Homo sapiens: one gene and its partners. The protein of the gene in region 1 interacts with the protein of each later gene in a biochemical or structural test. Each region holds a gene or a part of one and is shown in the gene's direction. Other genes may lie near its edges.

Region 1 (3,500 bases):
GGGAGACCTCAAGAAACTTACAGTCATGGCAGAAGGTGAAGGGGAAGCAAGGCACGTCTTACATGGTGGCAGGAGAGAGTGAGTGTGCAGGAGAAACTGTCGCTTTTGAAACCATGAGATCTTGTGAGAACTCCCTCACTATCACGAGAACAGCCTGGGGGAAACCACCTCATGATGCAATCACCTCCCACCAGGTCCCTCCCTTGACACGTGGGGATTGCAATTCAAGATGGGATTTGGGTGGGCACACAGAGCCAAACCATATCAATTCTCCACTTGCATAACCTCATACTTTATTCAATATGTGCTTGCTGAGACAGGCACAGTCTAAGTGCTGGTGATACAAAGAAGAATAAAAACCCTGTTTCTCTTCTAAAAGGAGAGAAGCATGAAAAGAAGCTATTACAACCCAGTGGGATAGGGTTAATGGAAGCAGGTGCAGGATACACAGTGTCACAAAGAAGGGGCTGATCAGCCATTGACAGGGATTGGGGAAAGAAAGGAGGTCAGAAGGCTGGGTGCAGTAGCTCACGCCTGTAATCCCAGAACTTTGGAAGACTGATGTGGGTGGGTTACCTGAGGTCAGGAGTTCGAGACTAGCCTGGCCAATGTGATGAAACCCCATCTCTACTAAAAACATAAAAATTAGCTGGGCATGGTGCTGGGCACCTGTAATCCCAGCTACTTGGGAGGCTGAGGCAGGAGAATCACTTGAGCCCAGGAGGCGGAGGTTGCAGCGAGCCGAGATTATGCCATTGCACTCCAGCCTGGGTGACAGAGTGAGACTCCATCTCAAAAAAAAAAAAAAAAAAAGGGTCAGGAAGTGTTTCTCTCCGGAAGAAATTAGTGAGTGAGTTCAAAATGGGGAAGAAGAGTGTTCTAGGCATGGAACAATAATGGGTTTTGGGGACCTGTAAGCTGTTCATGAGATTGGAGTGTGGGGTGCTGGAAGTACTGGTTAGGTAGGGGTGATGAGGCTAGAGGCATAGGCTGGGGTTAGGATATGAAGGGCCTTGTGGATAATGAGGGAGCCATTTAAGAATTATGAGGGGAGTAACACAATCAGTTTTGTGTTTTAGAAAAATCCCTTGGTTCCAGGGTATGGGTTGTTGAGCAGCTTGGATTTGAGAGGGTGAAGACCAAAGGCAGGGAGACAAAATAGGAAACCTCTGCAAATCAGAAAAGATGAGGACTAAACACTGGCAAACAGAATGTGGATGGAGAAGAGGTGATAGATCCAGATCTGTTCCGTAGCAAATAGGAAATATTAGAATGGTAAAATATTGGTGGCCATTTGGGTATGAGGAGTACTGACACTTGTCACCGTAACTTAAAACGTGCCTGGATAGATATAAAGGTTAATACCTGTTAATTTGCATAGCCTGTTGCTTTATACAGACAATTCAAGATACATTGTAATGAAGGCAAGAGCAATATATTGTCTGTTATTGTTTTTAAGGTTTAGTTCTTGTAAATAAAAATGTGAGAAAGTTGTATTAATATCTTCAAGGAAATAGATTTTTATTTGCTATAAAATGCATGATTTTAATAAAATTTGAGACTACAAAACAACATATATTTATAACAGTATTGAAAGTAACATGAAATTCTTATAATCTAAATAATGAATTCTACATTTGCATGTATAGTTGAGTAGTTAACATCTTTGGGCAATTCCATTTTCAGCTATGATGCCATTTAAAGCCAAGTATTGAAATAAACTGAGCAGAATTTACCAAATATTAAACCAAAAATTTAAAATAATATTTTTACTGAAATGTTTAGTAATCATTTCGGGAAGAACAAAAATGTTTTGGTACCATTAATACATAACACAAAAATGATTTAAAAAGTATTATTTTATCATCTCATTCTTATAAAATTTCCTTTTTTGGTGTATTTTTATAATCTATACAATATATTAATATGGTAATACATGTGTAATTGATAAGCAATACATACAATAAAGTTAAAAATACACAATAAGGGTATTTGTTCAGAAAAGTTTTACTATTGGGATGAGCCATCAAACGTTTGGAGACCCTGGCCTGCACCATAAAGACCAAAGTCCTTTTCATGGTACACAGGACTCCTCAAGATCTAGTCATATTTGTCACTGTGTTCTCCAGCTACATGGGACTTCTGGCATCCCTCTAACATGACTCTGTGACCTTACTTAGACTTTGCCTATCTATTGCATCCTACTTGAAGTGTCCTCTCCTGCTTATCTCCTCTTCATCATTGAAAACACAGTTCTTGGCTGGGCGTGATGGCTCATGCCTGTAATTCCAGCACTTTAGGAGGCTGAGGTGGGCGGATCACTTGAGTCCAGGAATTGGAGACCAGCCTGGCCAACATGGTGAAACCCCGTCTCTACTAAAAAAATACAAAAAATTAGCTGGGCATGGTGGCGCACGCCTGTAATCCCAGCTACTTGGGAGGCAGAGGTTGCAGTGAGCTGAGATCACACCACTGCACTTCAGCCTGGGCAACAGAATGAGACTCTGTCTCAAACAAAACAAAACAAAACAAAGCAAGACAAAAAAACCCCGCCACAGTTCTTAAGACATCCTTCTTTTTCTCTGAGACAGGGTCTTGTCCTGTTGCCGGGTTGGAGGGCAGTGGCAGAATTATGGCTCACTACAGCCTCGTCATCCTGGGCTCAAGTGATCTTCCCACTTTAGCCTCCTGAGTGGCTGGGACTAAAGGTGCATACCACCACACCTGGTTACTTTTAAATTAAATTAATTAATTAGTAGAGATAGAATCTTGCCATGTTGCCCAGGCTTGTCTAGACCTCTCAGGTTCAAGTGATCCTCCTGTTTCAGCCTCCCAAGTGTCTGGGATTACAAGCATGTGCTACCACACCCAGCTAATTATTTTAATTAATTAATTAATTTTTTTTGTAGAGATGGAGTCTCACCATGTTGCCTGGGCTGGTCTTGAACTCCTAGGCTGAAGCAACTCTCCCACCGTGGCCTTCCAAAGTGCTGGGATTACAGGTGTGAGCCACTGTGCTCAGCCAAGTCACCTTCTTTCTAAAGTCTTCCATGACTGTTAGAGATATAAATTTGCTTCCTCCCCTGTGATGCTTCTGTGCCTTTTATATCCTTTAAAAACTGTTACATGTTATTTATTTTCACATCTGTTTCCTCTTCTAGATTGTTAGCTACTTGGGGATTGTGTTCCTGGCTTTTCTTTTTTGAATCCGTAACACTTAGTGCTGACACTAGAAATAAGTATTTACTGTATTGATTTGTATTTAGTTACAGAGCACATTCTAGATCTATTTCCATTAAAATTAGCTGAAATACACAATTATGAACCGGCTCCACATCAGGCTTTCTCTTGTGTATGCCCTGACAATCAAGAGATTTTGTTGTATAATATCTTATTTCTCTCTTTTTTGATAAAGCCTTCTGAAACCAAAGCAAAGGCAATTGAAAAGATTGATGATGTTCTTGAGTTGTACATGGGAATTCGAGATATTGATTTAGGTA
Region 2 (3,500 bases), on another chromosome or scaffold:
TATTTTTGAGACTGAGTCTTACCCCGTTGCTCAGAATGGAATGCAGTGGTGCGATCTCAGCTCACTGTGACCTCCACCTCCCAGGTTCAAGCGATTCTCCTGCCTCAGCCTCCTGAGTAGCTGGGATTACAGGCACTCACTACCGTGCTCGGCTAATTTTTGTATTTTTAGTATAGACGGGGTTTCACCATGTTGGCCAGGCTGGTCTTGAACTCCTGACCTCAGGTGATCTGCCTGCCTCGGCCTCCCAAAGTGCTGGGATTACAGGCATGAGCTACCACACCCAGCCAGAACCTGCTTTCTAAAAGCACCCTAAACCTCTTTGGTTGTGAATTTATATATTCTCTGCCTTCCAAGGGCTGGTCTTTGAGGATATTGCTTGGAACTAAGTTCATACAGTAGATATTTTATTTAAAAAAAAAAAAAACAGAAAAGAGACCTCCAATAAAAGGTTTCTTTTTTGTCTGATTTTTTGCTTTTTTTTAATTTTGAAATATAATACTTGTCATATAAACTTAGCTCCAAGCAGTATGCTCAAAGACCAGCCCTTCTTGGAATGCAAATAATATATAAATTCATAGCCAGAGACGTTTAGAGGTGTTTAAAGAAAACCAGGTTCTTACAAGTGTCTTTCTAAAATAACCTTTATCTCTTTTTTACAACAATCAACCAGAGTGTTTAAGACTCAAACCGTTCACTGGTGAAGGAAGGCATTCCCTGAGACTCTAGGTCTGAGAAGAGGGATGGGTGGTGGAGAGGGGGAGGGAGTTTATTCGCCCTGCAGTTGTGCCTGCACCACTTACTTTCAAGGGCATATTTGGATCTGTTACTTGTCAAAGTGGCTATCAGAATCACCTTGGACTTCTTGAAGGGTGAGTTCACAACCGAGAAAGCACATATTCAAAATTGTTGAAGTAATAAGTAAATCTTCTAGAACCTTACCCTCAGTGATAACATTCCACTTCTAGCTCTTAAATACCCACTTCTGTTTCCTGGATGAGATACTCAGTGCAGGAAGGAACCTGGGTTACATTTGTCAGAGCCCCAAATCTGAGATGAACTGTATCAAGTTCTGCCTTTGGGCTGAGGCTGGTTACTGGAGGTCATCCTCTGTTTCTCTCTTTTTTTTTTTTTTTTTTTTTAAAAAAAAGAGAGACAGGGTCTTGCTCTGTTGCCCAGGCTAGAGTGCAGCGGTGTGATTCCAGTCCACTGCAGCCTTGACCTCCTGGGCTCAAGCGAATCTCCCAAGTAGCTGGAAGGTGGAACTAGAGGCATGCACCACCACACCCGGCTAATTTTTGTGTTTTTCTTATAGAGACGGAGTCTCATGTTGCCTGGGCTGGTCTCGAACTTCTGGGCTCACACCATCATCCCACCACGCCCAGCCTATTTTGTTTTTTTAAATACAATATCTTTTGTATGAACTTAGCTCCAAGCATATGCTCAGAAACCAGCCCTTCTTGGAGTGCAGTTAATATACGAGTTCATAGCCAGAAAGATTTAGAGGTGTTTCAGACAAACCAGGTTCTTACAGGTGTCTTTCTGAAATAACCATTTTCTCCTTTTTACAACAAACCAGAGTGTTTGTAAGACTGAAACAATGATCTTGGATAATGTCTTTGAAGGCCCTCACCCAGGGATTTACAGACTCCTCTGGGGAGGAGGGAAAATGTAATGCGAAGAGCCAGAGTGCAACCAATCTGGCTTTGATCCTCTTTGGTCCACACTGGCTGTGTCACCTTGGGCAAGGAATAGAGCCTCTGAGTCTCCCTTTCTTATTTCTGCTGCCTTAGGATTAGTTAGTGGGGGTTCAGTGAGACGATGTAATAAAGTGTGGGTGTATAGTACAGTCTCTGGTGTAAGTAAGTGCTCTATAGTAATGTCAGCTACTGAGGCTGGGTGTGGTGGCTCATGCTGGTAATCCCAGCACTTTGGGGAGCCGAGGTGGGAGGATTGCTTGAGGCCAGGAGTTCAAGACCAGCCCAGTCAACATGGTGAAACCTTGTCTCTACCAAAAATAAAAAAAATTAGCCAGGCATGGTGGCGTATGCTTGTAGTCCTAGCTACTCGGGAGGCTGAGGTGGGAGGATCAGTTGAGCCCAGGAGGTGGAGGCTGCAGTGAGCTGAGATTGCACGACTGCACTCCAGCCTGGGCAAAAGAGCAAGACCCCATCTCAAAAAAAAAATTTTTTTTTTTAATGTTAGCTACTGTGATGAAGTCTCTTTCTGAAAACTGGTTCTGTACAGGTTGCCGTAATTCTTTCTACTTTTTGTGTGTAAACAAAGTCATTGTTTCTTTCAGGGACTGATTCATGTAGGAATAGAGAGGGGCTGGGGAAACCAGATGGGGCAGGTGGGCGGCAGAGTAAGGGATTTCCTTTATGCCCCAAAACACATTTTTTCCCCTTGAATTAATAATGTGTGTGGATCATAAATAGAAAAATTCAGAGAGGCACAAATCTAAAAATTATGTATATGTGATGTATAAGAAAAAGAGAGCAGCTGTGGAGGGGCTTGGTGGCTGATAGGCGTTAGCTTGCATGTGAATACAGATATTAACAAGTAGAAATCTCATCCGTATACACAGTGCCTTTGCATCATGCATTCCCCGCCAAGTCATGTCGGTTCCATAGTTTCTGGTAAACTCTGGGCTGAGAAGAGACACGGGCTGGTAGCCCCTTCTGTTTTTGGGGGCCAAGATAATGGGGAAAGGATTGCATTTGCAGTGATTTTCTTATACGTCGTCTTCAAGTCACAGCTACTTCTTTGCCTGAGGATGTAAGAATGGAGGATTGGAAAGATGGTTGCTCTAGATGACTCTTCATGCATCCATCCAACCATCCAAGTGTGCAGCTACAAAATTTCTTGAACATCTGCTATTTGCCGGTCACTGTTTTAGGTACTGAGGATACACTGTGAACAAGACAGACACAGTCCCTGCCTTCGTTGACTTCTGTTCTGCTTAGGACAAATCCAAGACAGCCCCTATTCTGTGCATACAGACCACCTTTGGCTGCACCATAGGCTGGTGCAGTTCTGCACAGTGTCATTGGTTTTATAGTTATCACAAGACCTGAATTGTCTGAAATGACATTCAGCACCTGAACTCTTTGACACTTTGGCACCTCCATAAATCTAGAAATTTCTCTGAGTTGTGGTGCATAGGAAACCTTGAGGGACAACCCAGGAGTAACTGTGAGAAAAAGGGTGTCCCAGGGAGTAAATAGATCTCACAGCTCAGAACTGTAGGGACAGGAAGGTGGAAGGGGTAGGAGCTGGAACAAGTCTCCAAGCAGTGAGCTTCCCCAAAGTGCACCAGCGTTTTCAAGCTGTGCCTGCGTAGACGGGAGCAGGTCGAACAGAAATATAGTCAAAACTAGCTCCCGTCAAGGACAGACAGGATGTCATTTTGCACCACAGCAAGTAGGGGAAAGCAGCTCTCAAGCCTAACTGTGAAACGCCCCCACAAACCACCTCCTCCTCCCACTCCCTCACTGCTG
Region 3 (4,265 bases), on another chromosome or scaffold:
ATGTAGGCTTGTCTAGATAATTTTCTAAATGTCTTTCCAAAATTCTGCATATACTTCTAAGTTTGGATAGTTAGAAAAATAAAGAAGCCTAAATACAGGCCATCTTAAATTTTACTTGTTCGCTATCACTAGCATTGAAATCAGCAGTTAAAAACGTCACAATATTTTAACTACTGTGGTTTCAGCTGTTTGTGTGTGTGTGTGTGGGGGGGAAGGGTGTCGTCAACTCATGCCGGTTAAAGAACGTGACATTTCTGCATCTTATAAAATTGGACTAGAGAAAATGGGTTACCATAGGAACTGGCAAAACCTATTGACATTACTGGAATGCTTATTTAAAAAGTTTCTTTTACTTAATGGACCTATTTAAGAATGATAGAGAAAACGCCTATAACGGTGGCAGAGAGTTAGCATCTACACTCTAGGAATATTTGTCTTTTAAAGTGAAGCCTCATTAGGCAAACTGTATTTTACTAACCGTTGCATAGTAGCCTGTGTATGGTTTTTGAAGAAAATGAGTTTTGAAAAATCATGTCTACAATTTGTCACTCATTTTAAATCCCATTGTTGCCCTTCGGTTCTTATTAATATATAAGAATATCAAACACAAAATGACTTCTCTAAAATAGGTACTTTAGAGGAGTTGGCCCAAAACCTGAAACAGAGCCCTTTAAAATGGTACTTGGGGCAGAACCTGTCTCAGGATCACCACAACCAGCAGCTGGCAGGTGACAGCCTCAACGCCTGACTTCCCAGGACCCGCTCATCACCCGGGGAAGATCCGACAGCACTAGCCCTCCTGCCTCATCATCGCTGCGCTTCTGGCAGGCGGAGCCCCGTTCTCGTCCACGGCAGTCCACACCTCCGTCTCTGCAGGCGTACGCGGGTCTCGGGAATCACCTCCGGAGCCCACTCAGCAGCGGGGAGGGCGAGGGCGAAAGCGAGAGCCAGGAAAGCCCGGGCTCTCGCTGTAAGCCCCGCGCTCAGTGGTGTCCCCCTCCCCTCGGTGGTGGGGCCGCGGATACCTCCTCAGCCGCCTCAGCTGTCGGAGTTCAACTGGTGGGCGGCCCGTCCCGCCGTGGCCGCCACCGCCGGGTCCCCTCAGAGGCCTCACAAAGCCATGCTCCAGCCGCCCGCACCTGATTGACCGACCCCGGGCTCTGGCTCTGCCTCGCGCCGCCACCGCCTCCGCCGCCGCGCACGCGCACTTCGCGCGCCTCTGTTCCCGGACGGCCCCCAGAGCGGGAACGCCAGGCTGCGAGCTGCTGGCACCTGTCTGCCTGCCAGACAGACCCTGGGCTCCGGCCTCGTGCCGGCACGCGCACGCGCACGCGCCTCGCGCGCCTGCCGTCGGCCCTGGGGGCGGGACCGCGCGGCAGCGAGCGGGCGGGGGGCTCGTGGCGCGCGCGCCCCGCACCCGAGGGCTGCGGAGAGATATTTTGGGTGGCAGGAGGCCCCTCGTCATTTCCGCCGGGCAGCTAGTCGTGCTCGGGGCTTCACTCCCGCGCGTGAGGCGAGCGGGCAAGTTGGCTGAGGGCGTGCGGCAGAGGCTGCTTCCCTCGGCGACGCGACCCCTCAGCAACTCAAGCTATGAACTGAAGCTCCCTAGGGACGGAGACCGGAGCGGAGCGGCGGAGGCAGCAGCAGCAGCAGCAGCAGCAGCAGCAGCAGCAGCCGCCGCCGCCGCCGCCTTAGCGGGAACTGAGCAGACCCGGCGCGGAGCCACGACTCCTGCACGTTTACCTCCCTGTCGCCGTTCCTGCCGGCGGTTGGCTAAAAGACGTTACAGCCGCGAGACCCGACACACAAAAGCCGCTTTCTCCGCGCCGCCCGCCCAGGGAGGCTGCGGCCAGCAAGGGACCCCACCTGAGAGCAGCTCGGGCTGCTGAGTTCGTTTTGTGTCTGAGCTCTGCGCTCTGCACGGAACCGACCCCGTACCCATGGCTCTGATAATGGAACCGGTGAGCAAATGGTCTCCGAGTCAAGTAGTGGACTGGATGAAAGGTAATGCCCGCTGCGGGGAGGGTGAGGCGGCACTGGGGCGCGGGGCACCAGTGCGAGGTTAGGAGGGGGCGCCCGCCGCGCCAGAGCCCGCCACCGCGGCTTCCACTGGCGGATCGTCGTACGCGTCGGGGCGGGGGTCCTCCAGGACTGGCAGGGGCCTGGGGTCCCCGGTCTCCTTTTGTCTCCAGCTAGAGGGGCGCGGAGCGGCCAGAGAGCTAGAGGGCAGCGGGCGCCACCCCGTTGGAGGCAGGAAGTCGGGAGGCAGAATACCGGCGCATCTTGCGTACTCCCCTCTCCCCTTACTGCCCCCGGGCCAGGAGGACGTGGCGACCCTTATCTCCCAGCTCAGGGTGGACTCCCCCAGGACCTGCTCCCCTGGTCGCCCTTTCCTGGCCCCTTTGTTCCTGGGAAAGCTGACGCCCCCTCGGCGGCCGCCCTTGCCAGGTGCCTTCCCCAGCGCCAACTCTCCCAAGCAACTTTTAGCCCACATAATGGGGTCAGGACGCGGCCGCCCCCATTCGGAGCCTGGCATCCCCCCACACCCAGATTTGGCTGAGGATGCCCAGGGTGGGGGTATGTGCTACTTTGAGGGTGAGGACATCATGCTTCCCCTGGGACAGCATCCTTGCTGCTGTCTCTGGGCTGCCTCCAGCGCATCCCCTCGCATCCTTTGCCTTCTCTGCTTTCTCCCTTTCAAGCCAGTCGAGGTTTTGGACCTCACGGCTTTTTATTAAGGGCTCAACGCCAGATGTAAGGTGATGCGCATTCAGGTACCTTCACATTTCTTCCATCTTGAAGGTTCCCCCTTTTGTCCCTGGCGATTTATAATAACCACAGTTATAGACACTCACCCTCCTAATCGCAAACGTGAGCTTTTTTTCTGATCCCTGGGCTTTCCTGTCTCACTACCTCCCTCTGTTGTCTGAGTTAAGGGGCTTGTAGAGGACTCCCCCACCCACCAACCCCTTGGATCCTCAGGCCCAACTCTTCCCTAAGATTTTGGGAATTGAAGAGGGGATGGATGGGATGGAATGGAATAAAGGATGCGTGGCCACACTTGGGAAATGTTAGCGCTTTGCTCGAGGTCATACCTGAGCAAACTCTAGGTAGATCAGTCAGGGACCAAAGGCTTATTATCGCTGAAAATGCCCGTTCCTACGATGAAGGAGCCCCTTCTTGGGCTTACTTAACAGTCAGACTTTCTAAGCTCCAGATAATTTAGAACGAAAGGTGAGGTGATTGGGAGGGATTGAGAGTGACAGGGAGAAACTGATTTTTTTTGCTCATTCTTTTCCCCAGCCTTTTTGGCCGCTTGCTTATTCTTGTGGATTTTTCTTTATTTTGCTTTCCTTTTATTCCCTTACTTGCCCCTTTATTCCTCATTTACTTTGCTTTTCTTTTCTAATATGTGGAAACTGCTTTGTAACTGCTAAGCAGTACAAATGTGAGTGAATTGAATTAAACCTAATACATTATTTATCGACTGCACCCCTGTGTGCAGTGCATTGTGCTAAGGTGCCATGGGGGATATAAAGATGACTAAGACAAAGTCCTGCAGTGGCTCATCTTTGCTGCTGCTTTTTCTCTTTATGTATTTGCTATTGAAATTCCAATATCTTAGATTCCCACCAATTATCCTCACTCTCCACCTTCTCCGTTTCTCAGTGATGGAAGAAAGAGCCAGAGTATATACAGGAAGCAACAATGCTTAAAACCCCGTTCTTTGAATTTGTCTAAAAGGTTACTTTAGTTTGAGTCTGTTGCTGAAATATTAAAAGACAAGCTATCTTGGCTCCATGGGAGTCTGATTACCTTCATAGACTACCTTTCGCAAATTCCCATGATGCCTGTAGTGAGTGCTGCATACTCAGTCTCCACCTCCCACCCTCCCAGTTATATTCTTGCAGTTTCCCCTCTCTCCATAGTTTAGGTCCACTGAAGCAAGTAGAATATATGATGCACCTATTCTGACACACATTATTAGTTGTCCAGTACACCAGTCCTTTAAAAATCTTTCCAGCCTAAAATGTGGCTTCTTTGAAGTTAGGTTAACATTGTTAGCTGTGATTTGAAAATTTTTTTTAAATGTAAGTCGAATACCTTGTTTTCATACCTGTTGGTGACGCATTTTAGAGCTATTTGAAAAGATCAATTGGGTAGCCAAGATAGTTTGTGTATCGTGTATACATATGACTGGAAGAGAATGAATGATATAATTACCTGTATATTTCAAATCCCAGACTACTTACTGCTGAAATTTC
Region 4 (3,500 bases), on another chromosome or scaffold:
TTTACCTATGCCCCAGGGCCTTTGTTCTGCCCAAGGCCTTGTTTTCTGCCTTAGGACTCATGACCATAACCAGAGGCTACCATGCTATACTGTGGCTTTGACACTAAAAGAAGGGGAAAGCCTTCTCTTTTAGCTTAGTATTTAAGGGAATACTGAAAACCATAGGCTGCCTAGTCGGCGTTGTTCCCCACCCCACCCCCCAGTCTCTGTTTCCAGGGGTTCTCAGGAATGACATGCCTGTGAGCGTGTTCCTCTAGGGAGAGCACAGACCTCAGTCACAGCTGGGGTCTTCTCTTGTTTTGTTTTATTTTTAATTTTAAGTGTTTCCTAAGTAAGGAACCAGTTAAAAAAAGGAACAGATCAGAGAAGCCTCTGTGAAATAGAAAGAAAACGATAATTAATGAGCACCTACTATGTGCCGGGAACTGTGCAGGGCTTTTAAATACTGTATCACACTTGATCCTACCCCCGGGGTAGGTATGGATGAGAAAATACACTATACACTTGGGGGTTATGAAGCTGGTCAGAGAATTGAACCCAGGTCTGTCTGACACCCCCTCTCCCTCTAGTCTCTGTAGTCAGTGCAGTTTCCTTTACAGACGTCATCCTCCCGGACTTTACAGGACACCTTCTCACCTGTCCCTTAGAAAGCCACAGTGTAGTGCATGTAGCAGGAAGGTGTGGGGCTCAGACCAGGGTCCACGTGAAATGTGGACATGTGTGCGTTTGCCTCCTACATGCATGGATAACTTCAGGAGCTTCACTGGAAAGGGTTGGTGTTTGGCTTCCGGGCTGAGAACTTTATTAGAAAGGCAAAAAGAGGGAAAATTAAAACTATTTTAATATTCTGGGCAGATAAAGTCCAGTGAGCAGTCGCAGCGCTACACAGGACAAAGGCAGAAGGAACTTTCAGTCCACAGGCCACGCGGCTTGAGCCATGTCAGGCACGTCTAGCGTCCCAGGCGTTCCATCCATGAATGTCAAAAAATGTACAAATAATTTGTTTTATTCCCAAGTTGTCTATTTTTTATATCTCATCAATGACTCATTTGCACACCTATTGTAATGACAGGATTTTGGAATGGCGGAGGAATTTGCTACTAAGGCCCTGGAGCTGAAACCGAAATCTTATGAAGCTTACTATGCGAGAGCAAGGGCAAAACGCAGCAGCAGGTGAGGAGAGAGAGAGAGGGTGAAAGCAAGAGGTCTCTTTTCTGAAAATTTGGCCAAGGCAGCGTCGGCCACCCTGGGGCATATGTACCCAAATACATCTCTGTCCTTGAGAACTGTCAGGGCCAAGCTTTGGGGATGGCTCCCATAGCACAGCCCTCAGCTCAAGATCAGCAAATCTGCTGGGCTGTGGAGGCCACGAATGTTTCACTTCGGGAGAAAAACACTTTTTCACTGGAGAATGGCAGCTTCTTCCAAGAAGCCTCTGCCGTATCTCAGGCATTTTTCAACCCCCAGAGCAGCTAGCACAAAGAGACAACGGCGACTTAAAGAAATCACTTAAGCAGAGCACCCCACCCCCGCTTTAGAGGGAAAGTAGGATGGTTCACTTAACATCACAGGTTCCTCTTCCTTCTCCCATAGGCGTTTGAGGAATCCCGGATTAGTTAGTCTTCCCTCTGGGGCTCTCCTCAAGTCTGGTGGCATCAGACCCCCTTCCACCTAAACCATCACCCACCACACACACACAGAGTCAAGAGGTCCTTGCTGCCAGGATGGAGAGGACCCTCTAAGAGAACACCATTCCACATTCCTTGTGCCCATCTGCTTTAGTTTGGCCACTGGGCAGAAAAGCTCCCAGAATAACCTAGAACCTGCCATCAGTGATCTTTGTGTAACTTGTCACTGTCTCTTATGCCTCCTGCCCTCCTCCTCCCCAGCTGCATGGGAAAGAACTGCTTCAGGTTCACTGCTATGGCCAGGGGCACATGGTCCCGAAAATCACACCCAGCTTGAGGCTAGTGATGGTGGTGGCAGTGATCGCACTCTTACCTAGCTGGGGCAACGAAGTCCTCACAGAAATCTGACTGAAATTCTCCTTCCCTCTGGGTAGTTCCTTTTTCACAAGGTCAGTTGCCCCTGTCAGGTGATATTAGTAGAGAAGATGGGAATGTCTCTGACAGTTCATTTCTTCATTTGTAAATTAGAGTCTCCTTGGAGTCAGCTCAGCTCCAGCCCCGAGTGACCTAGTCAGCAAGCCTAATGCCTGCCCCACTTTGATAGAGCAAATGGAGACACAGCAATTCTGAGAGATGAGGGTTAGAAAGGGCAGAGGACAGGGTTCTTGCCTAGAGTAGAACAGGCCTGAAATTTGGAGCTAAAATATTGAGAATATAAAGAAAAATTTCTGCTGGATCAGCAAGATTTTTAAATATGTAGTTTTTTTTGTTCCTAAGCTACTTGACAGTGACCCTGTAAATGACAACCCCACCCAACTCTCATACTGCCTGGTGTGTGTTTGGGCACCAAAACAACTTCCCGAAGGGCCTGGCTGGACTGACAAAATGGGGCATTTCTCCACTATTCCCAGAGAGGCCAGAAGGAAGATGGAGGCCGAATGGGTTAGGGAATCATTCGGACTCTTCCAGAATGAGTCTTCCTGTTTCCTTCCCTATAAATCCAACTAAACCGAAATACCCCAGACTCCCACAGACGCCACCACAGCTCTCTGAGATAGTGACCATGTTCTCAGCTCTTGGTGATTTCTCTGGATTCAGAATAACTCCAGTTCCTGTGTTCACATTTTGTCAAGCAGACAGTTCGCAGCAGCCTTAGAGGACCTGAACGAGGCCATCAAGCTGTGTCCCAACAACCGTGAGATCCAGAGACTTCTGCTGAGAGTGGAAGAAGAGTGTAGACAGATGCAGCAGCCACAGCAGCCACCGCCGCCACCGCAGCCTCAGCAGCAGTTGCCGGAAGAAGCAGAACCTGAGCCACAGCATGAAGACATATACTCTGTACAGGATATATTCGAGGAGGAGTACCTGGAACAGGATGTTGAAAATGTTTCCATTGGCCTCCAGACAGAGGCCCGGCCCAGCCAGGGGCTCCCGGTCATCCAGAGCCCACCCTCCTCTCCCCCGCATCGGGACTCAGCCTACATCTCCAGCTCACCTCTTGGCTCTCATCAGGTTTTTGACTTCCGGTCCAGTAGTTCTGTAGGCTCTCCCACTAGACAGACCTATCAGTCCACCTCACCTGCCCTTTCTCCAACTCATCAGAACTCACATTACAGGCCTAGCCCACCACACACTTCCCCGGCTCATCAGGGAGGATCTTACCGTTTCAGCCCCCCTCCTGTGGGAGGACAGGGCAAAGAATACCCAAGCCCTCCCCCTTCCCCTCTCCGGAGAGGCCCTCAGTATCGGGCCAGCCCTCCAGCTGAAAGTATGAGTGTCTATAGATCCCAGTCTGGTTCACCCGTGCGCTATCAGCAGGAAACAAGCGTCAGTCAGCTTCCTGGCAGACCCAAATCTCCATTATCCAAAATG
Region 5 (3,500 bases), on another chromosome or scaffold:
TCCCAAACCCATCATCCCATTTCTCTGTCCCCTTGATCTCTGAGAGGTAAAGCATGACTGTAACCATTTTTCAGATGGAAAGACTGAGTCAGGGACAGGAAGTGATTGCCTGGACCCCACAGGAGAGCTGGGATTGGGGCCAGTGCCCAGGCCCCTGCTCCCTTCCCTTGCCTGCACCCTCTATCTTCAGGGCCAGGCTGGACTCTGACTGATCCAAACACTTGGCCACGGAAACCTTTTGCCTGCCTGCCTGTGGCTGTCCCCAGGTGTCCCTGGCTATCTCCTTTATTTGGATACATTGTGTTCCCAAGCTGGTGAGCAAGCTGGATGTCAATAAACAAGCTGATTTCCTCTTGGGCTTTTGTCATTCCCCAGGGACATGTAGTTTCTGCGGCTGCCTCTCCTCACCCTCAGAGCATCATGAATGTTAAGCATCTCCACTCCTCGCCACTACCCCTCCCTCACCCGCAGGTCAGGTGGAAGGCAGGCTGTAAACTAAAGCTCCAGTGCACAGGGGGAGCTTTCCATGGTACTCGCGGACACCTCTGCCTCCAGATGGGGAGTGTTGGGGTGGAATGGCAAAGGCTTCACCTGCTTGATTGTCAAGCCTCTCTTTCCTCCAAAGGCCCAGAAGCTGAGACTTTCTTCTGTCTCTGCCCTTCCCAGGAATCTTACTTCTCCACAGTGAAGATTATCTACACCGTGGGCCATAGCATCTCTATTGTAGCCCTCTTCGTGGCCATCACCATCCTGGTTGCTCTCAGGTTTGTCATCCTCATCACCAGCTCAAGAACCTTCCTTGGCTCCTTATTTCCCAGAGGGTCAAGTCTGCTTCCTTGCCTACATAGCCATGAACTTCCCAGATCTAGGCGCCATACCCATGTCTAACTTTCCCTTCCCTTTTCCCCACCATGTAGACCCATCTCTTCAAACACCAGAACTCATTCCTACCTCTGCCCCTTTGCTCACGTGGTGCTCATTCTATTTGCTTGGAATTCCTCATTGTTCTCAGTGTATTTATAACTGAGAAAGCCCAGCTCCTATCTGCATCTGACAGTCCTCTGCCTCCTGCCCAGAGCCCCTCTTGACTGTTATAACTCTCTGACCACTGTCCCCTTTAAGACCCCACCCCCTCCTCCAGCCTTCGAAGTCTGAGCACTGCATCTGGCCTGTGCTGTTCTTGGTCTCATGGGGATGAGTGTCTCTGATCATCCAGGGGGCTCCCATGGGCAGTACCTGCCGTTTCTGCCTCTGTTCCCTGAGACTGTGAGCACCCTCGAGGCAGGGACCAGATATTCCTCTCTTTCCACACTTACCCTGAGCACAGGAATGGTTGCTCAGCTGTCCTGCAAGGGTTAAACTGAAGCCTCAAGTTCAGCTCAATTCAATTCAGTTTGATTGCATCCAGTTTGATTCGATTCACCTCCTGCCCTGTTCAGCCCAGTTGCAGCACACCAGAATCCCCTCTCCCTGCTTGCTTCTTGTTCCTCATTTCTCCCATTACCCCCAGGAGGCTCCACTGCCCCCGGAACTACGTCCACACCCAGCTGTTCACCACTTTTATCCTCAAGGCGGGAGCTGTGTTCCTGAAGGATGCTGCCCTTTTCCACAGCGACGACACTGACCACTGCAGCTTCTCCACTGTAATGGCCATGGGTGAAGGGGCTGGGCAGGTGGGGGAGAGAGGAGGTAGGATTACAGACCCAGATGTGCCTGCGTCAGGCTTCCCTGCCCTGTGGGCTGACCCTGGGGCTCCCGCATGGCCAATTACAGAACAGGAAAATGCTCCTTTCCCATGTCACCCCCTAAGTCCTCACGCCTTTCCTGGACTGTGGTGTCGATCCATGTCATTTCCCATATTGCATGCTCTACTCCGCGTTCTGTAGTCCAACCTAGACCACGTTTCACTATGCACAGCCTTTTCCTTTCCTTTCACCCCTCCCTGAGCACTCATAGGTCTGTGCTGGGGGTGTGTACGCAAGGGGCTGGGAGGAGCTGGGTCCCTCCTTCAGGAAGAGCCCATGGGACAGAATGCACACAGATTAGGGGACTCCCAAGTGGAGGAAGCTGAGAGCTAGGAGAGAACGAGAGGGGGCTTCAGGGAGGAGAGGACCCTGGAGCTGTATTGGCAGCAACAATAGGGAGATGGGGAAGGAGAACATTTCAAGAGGAGAGACCAGGGTGAACAAACTCTCAAAGACAGGAGGACCTGGGCCATGTCCAAGAAACTGGGAAGGCACCATGGGAGAGATGGGGTGGAGACAATAAGAGGCAATTGAAATTAAAGGGAAGTTGGGCAGAATGTGGAGACCCAGCACCTGCTAGATCCTCTGCAAGTGTGCTGGAAATGAACAGCGAAATCAGGGAGCAAACTAACACATGACCTCAATTAACTGATGAAAGAATTAATCATACTTCATACTGAGCACTTATTTTGTGCCAGGCATTGCACTAAGTGCTTTACATATGTAGTTGTCCCTTGAACAATGTGGGTTTAGTGGTGTTGACCCCCCTTTCAGCTGAGAATTCAAGTATAACTTTTGTGTCCCCCAAACTTAACTATTGATTGCCTACTGTTGACCTGAAGCCTTACCAATAACATAAATGACCGATTAACACATATTTGTCTGTTACACGTGTTATATACTGTATTCTTACAATAAAGTAAGCTAGAGAAAAAATTTTAAGAAAATCATAGAGAAAATAAAAATTGGCTGTTTTTAAATGGAAGTGGATCATCATGAAGGTCTTCATCCTCATCGTCTTTATGTTGAGTAGCCTGAGGGGGAGGAGGAAGAGAAGTTGATCTTGCTGTCTTAGGGGTGACAGAGATGGAAGAAAATCTATGTGTAAATGGACTTCAGCAGTTCACACCTTTGTTGTTCAAGAGTCAGCTGGCATTATCTCTTGAATTTTTAAAACAGCTTGAAGAAGAAAGCATCACTTTAATCCCATTTTGTAGAGGAGAGACAGTTGGCAAGGTCACCCAGTGGCACACGGGTGGGGCTGGGATCAAACCTGGGCCAACTGAACTCAGAGGTGGTCCTGCTCCCCTGCCGGCAGGTGATCAAGTCATGCAGTGAGTGAGTGAATGCACGGGTGCCTGTGTGTGTTTTTTGCAAGACAGAGCTGTGGCTGAATAAGTCACAGCTCTAGGGATTGACTTCAGCTCAGGAAGGATGGGGGTAAGTGAAAATAGAAGCAAGTCTTAGGCAGTTTCCATTTAATCCTTATGATGAGGACTTGATCTAGGTATTGGAGGTTTTTCCTTTTACAGATGAAAAGCTAAGGTGTGAGGAGATTTGCACAGGAAATAGATAGTAAATTAGAAGCCAGGCTGTCTAGATACCAAATCTGTGCTCTTAACCCTCACTGTATATCACCACATCCCCTCTTGGGTGGCCCAAGGAGCTGCAGGTCCCAGCCTAACATGGAGGGGCCTGGAGGTTCTGTATCTGAGTAGGGTAGAGGAGACTGGGATGGGGCTCCAGTGGGTGTCC
Region 6 (3,500 bases), on another chromosome or scaffold:
CAGTCAGCTTCTGGAGGCTGGAGGAGAGCCGTTCACCCCCCTGGTCAGCTTCTGGGGGCTGGAGGAAAACTGCCCCCCTGGTCAGCTTCTGGGGGCTGGCCTCATTCCTTGGCTCCCGGCTCCTGCCCTGCCTCCATTGTCACATCGCTGTCTTTCTCCTCCTCTTTATTTTCTCCTTTTAGAGACAGGGTCTCACTTTGTTGCCCAGGTGGAGTGCGGTGGCACAATCATAGCTCACTACAGCCTTGAACTCCTGGCTCAAGCCATCCTCCTGCCTCAGCCTCTTGAGTAGCTGGGACCCCAGGCATGTGCCACCATGCCCAGCTAATTTTTTCTGTTTTTTTTTTTTGGTAGAGATGGGGTCTCACTATGTTGCCCAGGCTGATCTTGAACTCTTAGCCTCAAGTGATCCTCCTGCCTTAGCTTCTCAAAGGGTTGGGATTGCAGGCACGAGCCACCGCGCCTAGCTTCTGTCTTCTTCTGCCATGTTCAAATTTCCAGGATAATCTCCTTGTCCTGGGAGCCTTAGTTTACTCACATCTGCAGATCCGTATTGCCGTATGGCTTTCACAGTCCCAGGGATTAGGGCCTGGATATCTTTGGGGATCGCTATTCAGCCTACAGCAGGCTCCTCACTTGTCTTCGAAATGACTTCACTTTTCCCATTGTGTGCGAGGAGCACCCGTCTCATGCCTCTTCTCTGGGATGGGCAGGGTTTGTCCAGGGAAGGTCCCTGTGGTTTCACTTCCCTGCCCTTGGGGAGAGGCGGGAGCCATCCTGGAAACAGGTGTCCTGGGAAGGAAGACAAGCCTTGCTCAGGATGCAAGCCCCAGTCATGAGAGGTTGTGGGAGGTCACTCATGCTGTGCCTTTTTAGGAGGTGGGGTCGTTACCAGTTCCAAACTGGATACTCCACACAGTGCTCATGCAGTTTTACCTGTGGTTTTGGGGGCCACCGTTGCAGAAGTTGCCTAGATTCTTCCATGAAGGAGCCTCTTGCCTCGGGCTCCGGGCAAGGAACTCTTGTGTTAGAAGTTCCCTTCTTCTGTGTCTTTTAAGGTCTGGACTTCAGTGAAAGAGAAAAGAAACATCTAGTTTGTTCTTTCTGTTTTTCTTTTCTTTCTGCTTTTCCATGCACTTGCTGTCCCCAACTCTGTAATCATGGTGATACCCGATACGCATACACACTCTACTCACATATCTTTTCCTACATCTTTGTGTCCCTTAGCAGTGATCTTAGTTGTCCTTCCAGCATGCCTGAAAAAGGGCTGAGTCTGTGGATTGAAGCGTCCAGTTGTAGGCATTCTCCTGCCCTGCCTGGCCGCAGCCCCCAGAGGCGGGATCCTAAGTGGTCTGTTTTCTCAGGCATTTACTGCTGTTGAAGCTGCTCCTTTAAAGCTTAAGACATTCTTTTTTTATTTCTCCCAAAGGCCGTGGGGAGGTTTAGCTCTCCTCTGTCCCACCAGCCTCCCTGTCCCTCTATGTGCCATCATAATCACTGCATTTTTGGTGAAATCGACAGTCCTTGCTCTTGTGTGACTGTAAGCATTGCTCATTACTGCGCCAAGGAGTGCCCTGAGCACAGGTCCTCTCGCACAGCCCTGTGGATTAGCATCTTCTAGTCACCCACCTATCAAAATGGTTTGTTTTTCATTGCATCCAGGACACTAGCCCCATCCCCACCCCTTTGGGATTGGAGCCTTCTCCCTGCTCTCGTTTGCCCTGGTCTCCAGGAGACCTGCTGCGCCGCTGTCACCTGCATTTCCCGCTGCTGTCCTCCATCTGTGGGGCTCCCTGTGCACTGGGTCCTGCTCTTCTCTCTCTGCTTGGCTCACTCCTCGTTTTGCTGAAGTCCTACTCTTTTGATACCTAAGAAACATCACATAGGTATTTTTTTTGGTCCTTGATTTAGAAAACATCTTTATTTTACTCTCCAATTACCTTTTAACTTAGCTGGGTATAAAATTTTAGACAATGATTTTTTCGGAATTTTGAAAATGTTGCTTCATTGCATTTGGTTTCTGTGCTGTTGAGGTCTGACGCCATTCTGATTTCAGTTCTTCTGTGTGTGATCTCTCCTGCCTCAAGCTCATAGAAGCGGCTCTTTTCCCTCAGTGTTCTGAGAAGCCCGATAATGGCATCTGCTTCCGTTTATTGTGCTGGGCACTCCGTGGGCCCTTTCAGTCTGAGGATAGAAGTTTTTAAATTTCAAAGATAATTTTCTTTCAGTTTTGCTGTTTTCTCTTTCTGGAACTTTTATTTGGAGGTTGGACCTCCTAGGTTGATCCTCTAATTCTCTTTTTTCTCATCTTGTTGATCTCTTTGATGTTTGTTCAATTTTTTTTTTAAGAGACGGAGTCTCACTCTTTTGCCCAGGCTGGAGTGCAGTGGTGCAGTCATAGCTCGCTGCAGCCCCAAACTCCTGGGCTCAAGCGATCCCCCTGCCTCAACCTCCTGAGTAGCTGGGAACACAAGCATGCACCCCCACAACTGGCAATTTTTACTTTTCATTTTATTTTTTCATAGTCTCGTCATGTTGCCCCTTTGCTGTTTCTAAGAAGTCAGTCACTCTGGTAGCTGCGTTGCTCCTTTATGTTATATGATGAGGTGCTTTCAAGCTCCTCCTGGGATTTTTGGCTTCCAGCAGTTTGATTGTGATGTTCTTAGGAGGGTTTGCTTTGTATTTGTCCTGCTCAGGGTTTGTTGAACTTCTTGGATATGTAATTTTTCACCATCTTCAAACTGCTATTAAGTTTCGTGCATTTTAAAATTTCAGTTACAGTAGTTTTTATTTCTAGAATTTTCACTTATTTTTTATGGTTGCCATTTCTCTGCTCTGTCATTTGTTTATTGTGATCATACTGTCATTAAATCTTTGAACACATACTAGCGGCTTTAATGTTCTTTTCTGCTAATTTCAACACCTGCATTACCTCAGGATCAATTTCTATTGGCTTCTTCCAACTATGGGCCACATCTTCCTGTTTCTTTGAACATCTAGTGTTATTTGATGGTGTACTGGACATTGTAGATGGTAACTGTAGTGACTTCTTTTTTCTGAAGAGTGTTGATTTTTGTTCTGGAAGTTAATTTGTCTGGACTCAAATGAAAATCTCTGCTGCAGTCTCTGCTTGGTGCTGTTGACCTTCCGGCTGCCTCCTTCTGCTGGACTCTGGGGTCTCTCTGTGCATGGATGGCTCACCACTGGCCAGGACCTAGGCAGAATTTACTAACAGATCTCACGACTGCCTCTTCCCCAGTGACCTCCTTTCTGAGATATGCCCCTCACTGTTCAGCCACCCAGCCCTCCCCAAGCCCTATCTTGGACTCTTCAAGCTGGGAGGATCACAACTTCTACCTGTGCTCTAGCCATTTTTAGAAACACTTGTTTTAGTTGGTGCAGCTCTCTCCTTTCAGGGGACAACTCCCCTCCACTTTCTGCCTGCTTTTCATAGCTCTCCAGGACCTCCCAGAGTTGGTTTTTGTGTCTTGTGTCTGGTT
Region 7 (3,500 bases), on another chromosome or scaffold:
AGAGTTGAACGCCACTGAACTGTACACTTAAAAATGGTTAAAATGGTAAATTTGGTGTTATATATGTTTTGTCACAATTTTTTTAAAAGGAGCCAGCATGTTCATTGCCATATGCTGAAACCAGATTCAACCCTGATGTTCACCTAAAAAGAGGGAGTAGGGAAGTGCCTAATACTCCATCTTTACATTGTCATGAAACCTAAGTGAGATTAGGACATGGCATCATCAGCTGGGCTTCTTAAAATGTTTCCCTTTCCACCAGGGCCGTCTTAGAGAGACCGTATATTCCTGTTGGGCTGAGAGCACTTTAGTGACTTTTGAGTGTGTGCTAAGCCCTATTTTCCTTCCTCTGGAAGGATGAAATTGTTCAGCTTGTTGGAACTAGGTGTCTTAGGAACAGAGAGCTCTGTGTTCAGGCCCAGTAATCATCCTCTGGCATATTTTTTGTTTTCCAGGACAGCTACTAAAGCTTATCCACAGTCTCCAAAGACAACGAAACCTCCCTACCCAGGGTCTCCTGTGAAGTACCGCTTACCTGCCCTTTCTGGCCAAGACATGCCCAAGAGGAAAGCGGAGAAAGAGAAGAGCAACAAGGAAAGGGAAGGTACCTTGGCTCAGCAGGCTGCTGGCCCGCAAGGAGAGGAAGCCCTAGAGAAGCATGTAGTGGACAAGCATGCCAGCGAGAAGCATGCTGCTGCCGCAGGAGGGAAAGCCGAAAACAGCGCAGGTAGATGCTGCCACCGTGCCTTGGCTTTCCCAAGACGGTTCTCCTCAGACCCAATCCACGTGCCATTCTCTCATGTTTTGGGGAGGGAAAGGGATTTTTCTCTGGGGACAAGTGCATCCCCTCGTGCAGCTTTCTTGGGTTTGCACGTTGCTCCTGAGTTCTTTCCTTCAGTCTTCTGAGGGTCCCCTGGAGGAAATCTAGAGGCTGACTCCACTCATGGCTGTGGAAGCTCACGGGGATGCTGAGTAAAACAGGCCTGCATCTGCACCTCACGCAAAAGAAGATCTTCCTTTAGACTTTCAGGCTTCTATGATGCAGTGAGTTCACCCAGATGGTGGCTGCTGTGGCACTTGCTAGTGACCTTGTCTTTCCTCCTCATGTTTCTATTGTCTTCCACTGTAAAATGCGTCCAGGGTTCCAGCCAGCCCATGACAGCTTCTCTTGCTTGGTGGTCGATTGTGCTAGTCTGGACGGCATTTCCCATCACCACACTGGGTTGGATTTTTTTTCACTTCCAACTGGCAGCTGCTGTGTGAGTGGAATCATTATATTCGTTTCCCTTGATCTTTTCCTCTTGATGCCTCTCCTCTGGTGCAGCCTTGGGGAAGCCCACAGCAGGCACCACTGATGCAGGAGAGGCTGCGAAGATCTTGGCTGAAAAGAGAAGACAGGCCCGGCTGCAGAAGGAACAGGAGGAGCAAGAACGACTGGAGAAGGAAGAACAAGATAGGTATGCTAGTGCTCAGAATTTCGGTGTGATCTCATGTAACTGTTGTGTTGGAAAGAGCAGCTTGCCTTTCTTTTTACAGCGTTGGTATTGATAAAACTTGAACAGAAGTATGGGAACCTAGAATGTCTGAACTACATGGAAGGTGTTCAGGAGACTGAGTCTTATATTAGATGTAATTATTAATAACAATGGAACTTTGTTCTTTTCGGAGGACCTGGAAACTCATAGCTCTTGGATCTAAATGGCACAGGCATCTTCCCATTCTCCTCTTGGACTTTGGGGCCAGGCAGGCCTCCTAGAGCTATCAGGGAAGTCTGAACTTTGTTTAAAAAATGAGATTCTCCCTGGGAAAACAAGAGGTTCAAGATTCTGGTTTTGGTCTTGATTCTGATTTCCAAATTGTTTCCTCCGTCAAATTATCCTAACTCACACCCCAAAGTGAGAGACAGAGGGGAGGGTTGAGCAGTGTCCCCTAGGCATAGGGTTGTGTGTAGGGGCAACCGCATAGTCTAAGAACAGTGAGGTATGGGGAGTCCCATCTGGGAGCAAGACAAAAGACATCATTGCAGTGGTCCCTACACCTTGAAGAGCATCAGAATCATCCGGGGAATGCAGTAAAAACACATGGACTCAGCCCTGTTCTGTTTTAGTAGCTTGCCAGGGTTTGAGAACCACTGTGATGTTAGTACCAGGGTACTTTGTCACAATACAGACAGACCTTCCTTTTCTGATCTTTTTATTTAGAGAGGAAAGCATGTTGAAGGACAAGGTCGATTTTATCATTAAATTGATAAAGGAAGCCGTTAGGCTCATCACAGAGTACAATCCAATACTGTTTAGAGAATTATCATGACAGGAAGCAGGCAATGCTGTAGCACTTCAAGGCCAGCACCGAATTTAGAGTAATAAATAATAGAATATTATTGATCCTTTAGTGACCTTGGTAAGTCTTTGTGGTCTCTGATTACAGGTTTGCTGATCTATTTTTTAAAAGGGACAGTGGGGTAGGTCTCGACAGTCCCTTCTTGAAATTTGGGACTTCTTTGATTGTTTTCCTGTTTCCAACATTTTGGTCAATACAGACGTGTTTTGTTTGTTTGTTTGTTTGTTTTGTCGAGTGGCATGTTTGGGCTGGTTTGGGTGGGCCTTAAGGTGTGTGAAGGGAGGTCACAAGAGATAAAGATGAATCACAGGACCTCAGATGACAGGCCTTGATAATTGCAGGCCATGGAGATACCATGTAGGCTCTGAGCTGGTGAGTAACATGATCGTAGTCGTGTGCTAAAGAAGGTGATGTTCTTTACTTTCCAGCTACCACCGTCTGTATCTCCCATTTTCTTCACAGCCCAGCTCCTGAAAGACTTGATTGAACATTCTGTCTTTATTTTCTCAACTCACATTCAGTCTTCAAACCTCACACCTACCACTCCTCCTCGTTGCCTAACTACTAATCAGTTTCTTGGTTGGCTTTGGCCTTGTCAAGCTTGCCCTTGCTTCTCTGGCCTCTCCTTCATAGCCTCCTCTGTCTGCCCCTCATCCCCTTAAATGTTGCCTGGGCTTTCAGCCCTTAGTCCTGGACCAGCTTCTCTCCCAACAAGCTCTCCCGAACAGCACTGCTCCCGCCTGTTCTGCCAGTGTCCCTGCCATCCTGCCAGTTTCCTATGGCGTCAAAAGATTTAGGGCCCACATTTTACACAACAGCTTTCTGTTGAGCCTTTGTTGTGCTAAACCAGCTCTGCTCTCATCTCACTTCCCACCTTCATTTTCCCTTTGTCTTGTTTTATTGTCCGTTTCTGAAGCTAACTGCAGCTTGCTTTCTAAACCTTCCATACTTTCTGGAACAAGGGAGGCACTAATAACACATGTGTACTGATGACTCCTAAAACTATGCCTGTGGCCCAAGCTCTGTCTAGGGCTGCATTGTCCACTATCAGACCCTCTAGGCACATGTGGCCACCAAAATATACATTCAGTAAAATTCATTTCCCCAGCCACACCCGCCACATTTCCGTGCTCAAGAGCTGCATCTGAGTAGATGTGGAT

The links.
Region 2: the proteins of GIPC2 (region 1) and ARHGAP17 interact in a test that uses a peptide from one of them, tested with the Homo sapiens proteins (one large-scale study listed by IntAct).
Region 3: the proteins of GIPC2 (region 1) and CNKSR2 interact in a test that uses a peptide from one of them, tested with the Homo sapiens proteins (one large-scale study listed by IntAct).
Region 4: the proteins of GIPC2 (region 1) and TANC2 interact in a test that uses a peptide from one of them, tested with the Homo sapiens proteins (one large-scale study listed by IntAct).
Region 5: the proteins of GIPC2 (region 1) and GHRHR interact in a test that uses a peptide from one of them, tested with the Homo sapiens proteins (one large-scale study listed by IntAct).
Region 6: the proteins of GIPC2 (region 1) and RGS12 interact in a test that uses a peptide from one of them, tested with the Homo sapiens proteins (one large-scale study listed by IntAct).
Region 7: the proteins of GIPC2 (region 1) and MAP7D2 interact in a test that uses a peptide from one of them, tested with the Homo sapiens proteins (one large-scale study listed by IntAct).

The regions. Positions count from the first base shown.
Region 1 is NC_000001.11:78,122,466-78,125,965, forward strand, and holds part of GIPC2 (PDZ domain-containing protein GIPC2), read left to right. Parts: intron 1-3,415; coding exon 3,416-3,497; intron 3,498-3,500.
Region 2 is NC_000016.10:24,921,370-24,924,869, reverse strand, and holds part of ARHGAP17 (rho GTPase-activating protein 17), read left to right. Parts: intron 1-3,500. UniProt on the Homo sapiens protein: Rho GTPase-activating protein involved in the maintenance of tight junction by regulating the activity of CDC42, thereby playing a central role in apical polarity of epithelial cells.
Region 3 is NC_000023.11:21,372,958-21,377,222, forward strand, and holds the start of CNKSR2 (connector enhancer of kinase suppressor of ras 2), read left to right. Parts: upstream 1-1,465; 5' UTR 1,466-1,940; coding exon 1,941-2,004; intron 2,005-4,265. Other genes in the region: uncharacterized protein LOC105373146, read right to left, coding at 1,026-1,465.
Region 4 is NC_000017.11:63,417,235-63,420,734, forward strand, and holds part of TANC2 (protein TANC2), read left to right. Parts: intron 1-1,072; coding exon 1,073-1,173; intron 1,174-2,761; coding exon of another isoform or gene 2,762-2,764; coding exon 2,765-3,500. UniProt on the Homo sapiens protein: Scaffolding protein in the dendritic spines which acts as immobile postsynaptic posts able to recruit KIF1A-driven dense core vesicles to dendritic spines.
Region 5 is NC_000007.14:30,970,453-30,973,952, forward strand, and holds part of GHRHR (growth hormone-releasing hormone receptor precursor), read left to right. Parts: intron 1-666; coding exon 667-764; intron 765-1,510; coding exon 1,511-1,643; intron 1,644-3,500.
Region 6 is NC_000004.12:3,296,021-3,299,520, forward strand, and holds part of RGS12 (regulator of G-protein signaling 12), read left to right. Parts: intron 1-3,500. UniProt on the Homo sapiens protein: Regulates G protein-coupled receptor signaling cascades. Inhibits signal transduction by increasing the GTPase activity of G protein alpha subunits, thereby driving them into their inactive GDP-bound form.
Region 7 is NC_000023.11:20,022,908-20,026,407, reverse strand, and holds part of MAP7D2 (MAP7 domain-containing protein 2), read left to right. Parts: intron 1-455; coding exon 456-727; intron 728-1,324; coding exon 1,325-1,457; intron 1,458-3,500. UniProt on the Homo sapiens protein: Microtubule-stabilizing protein that plays a role in the control of cell motility and neurite outgrowth via direct binding to the microtubule. Acts as a critical cofactor for kinesin transport.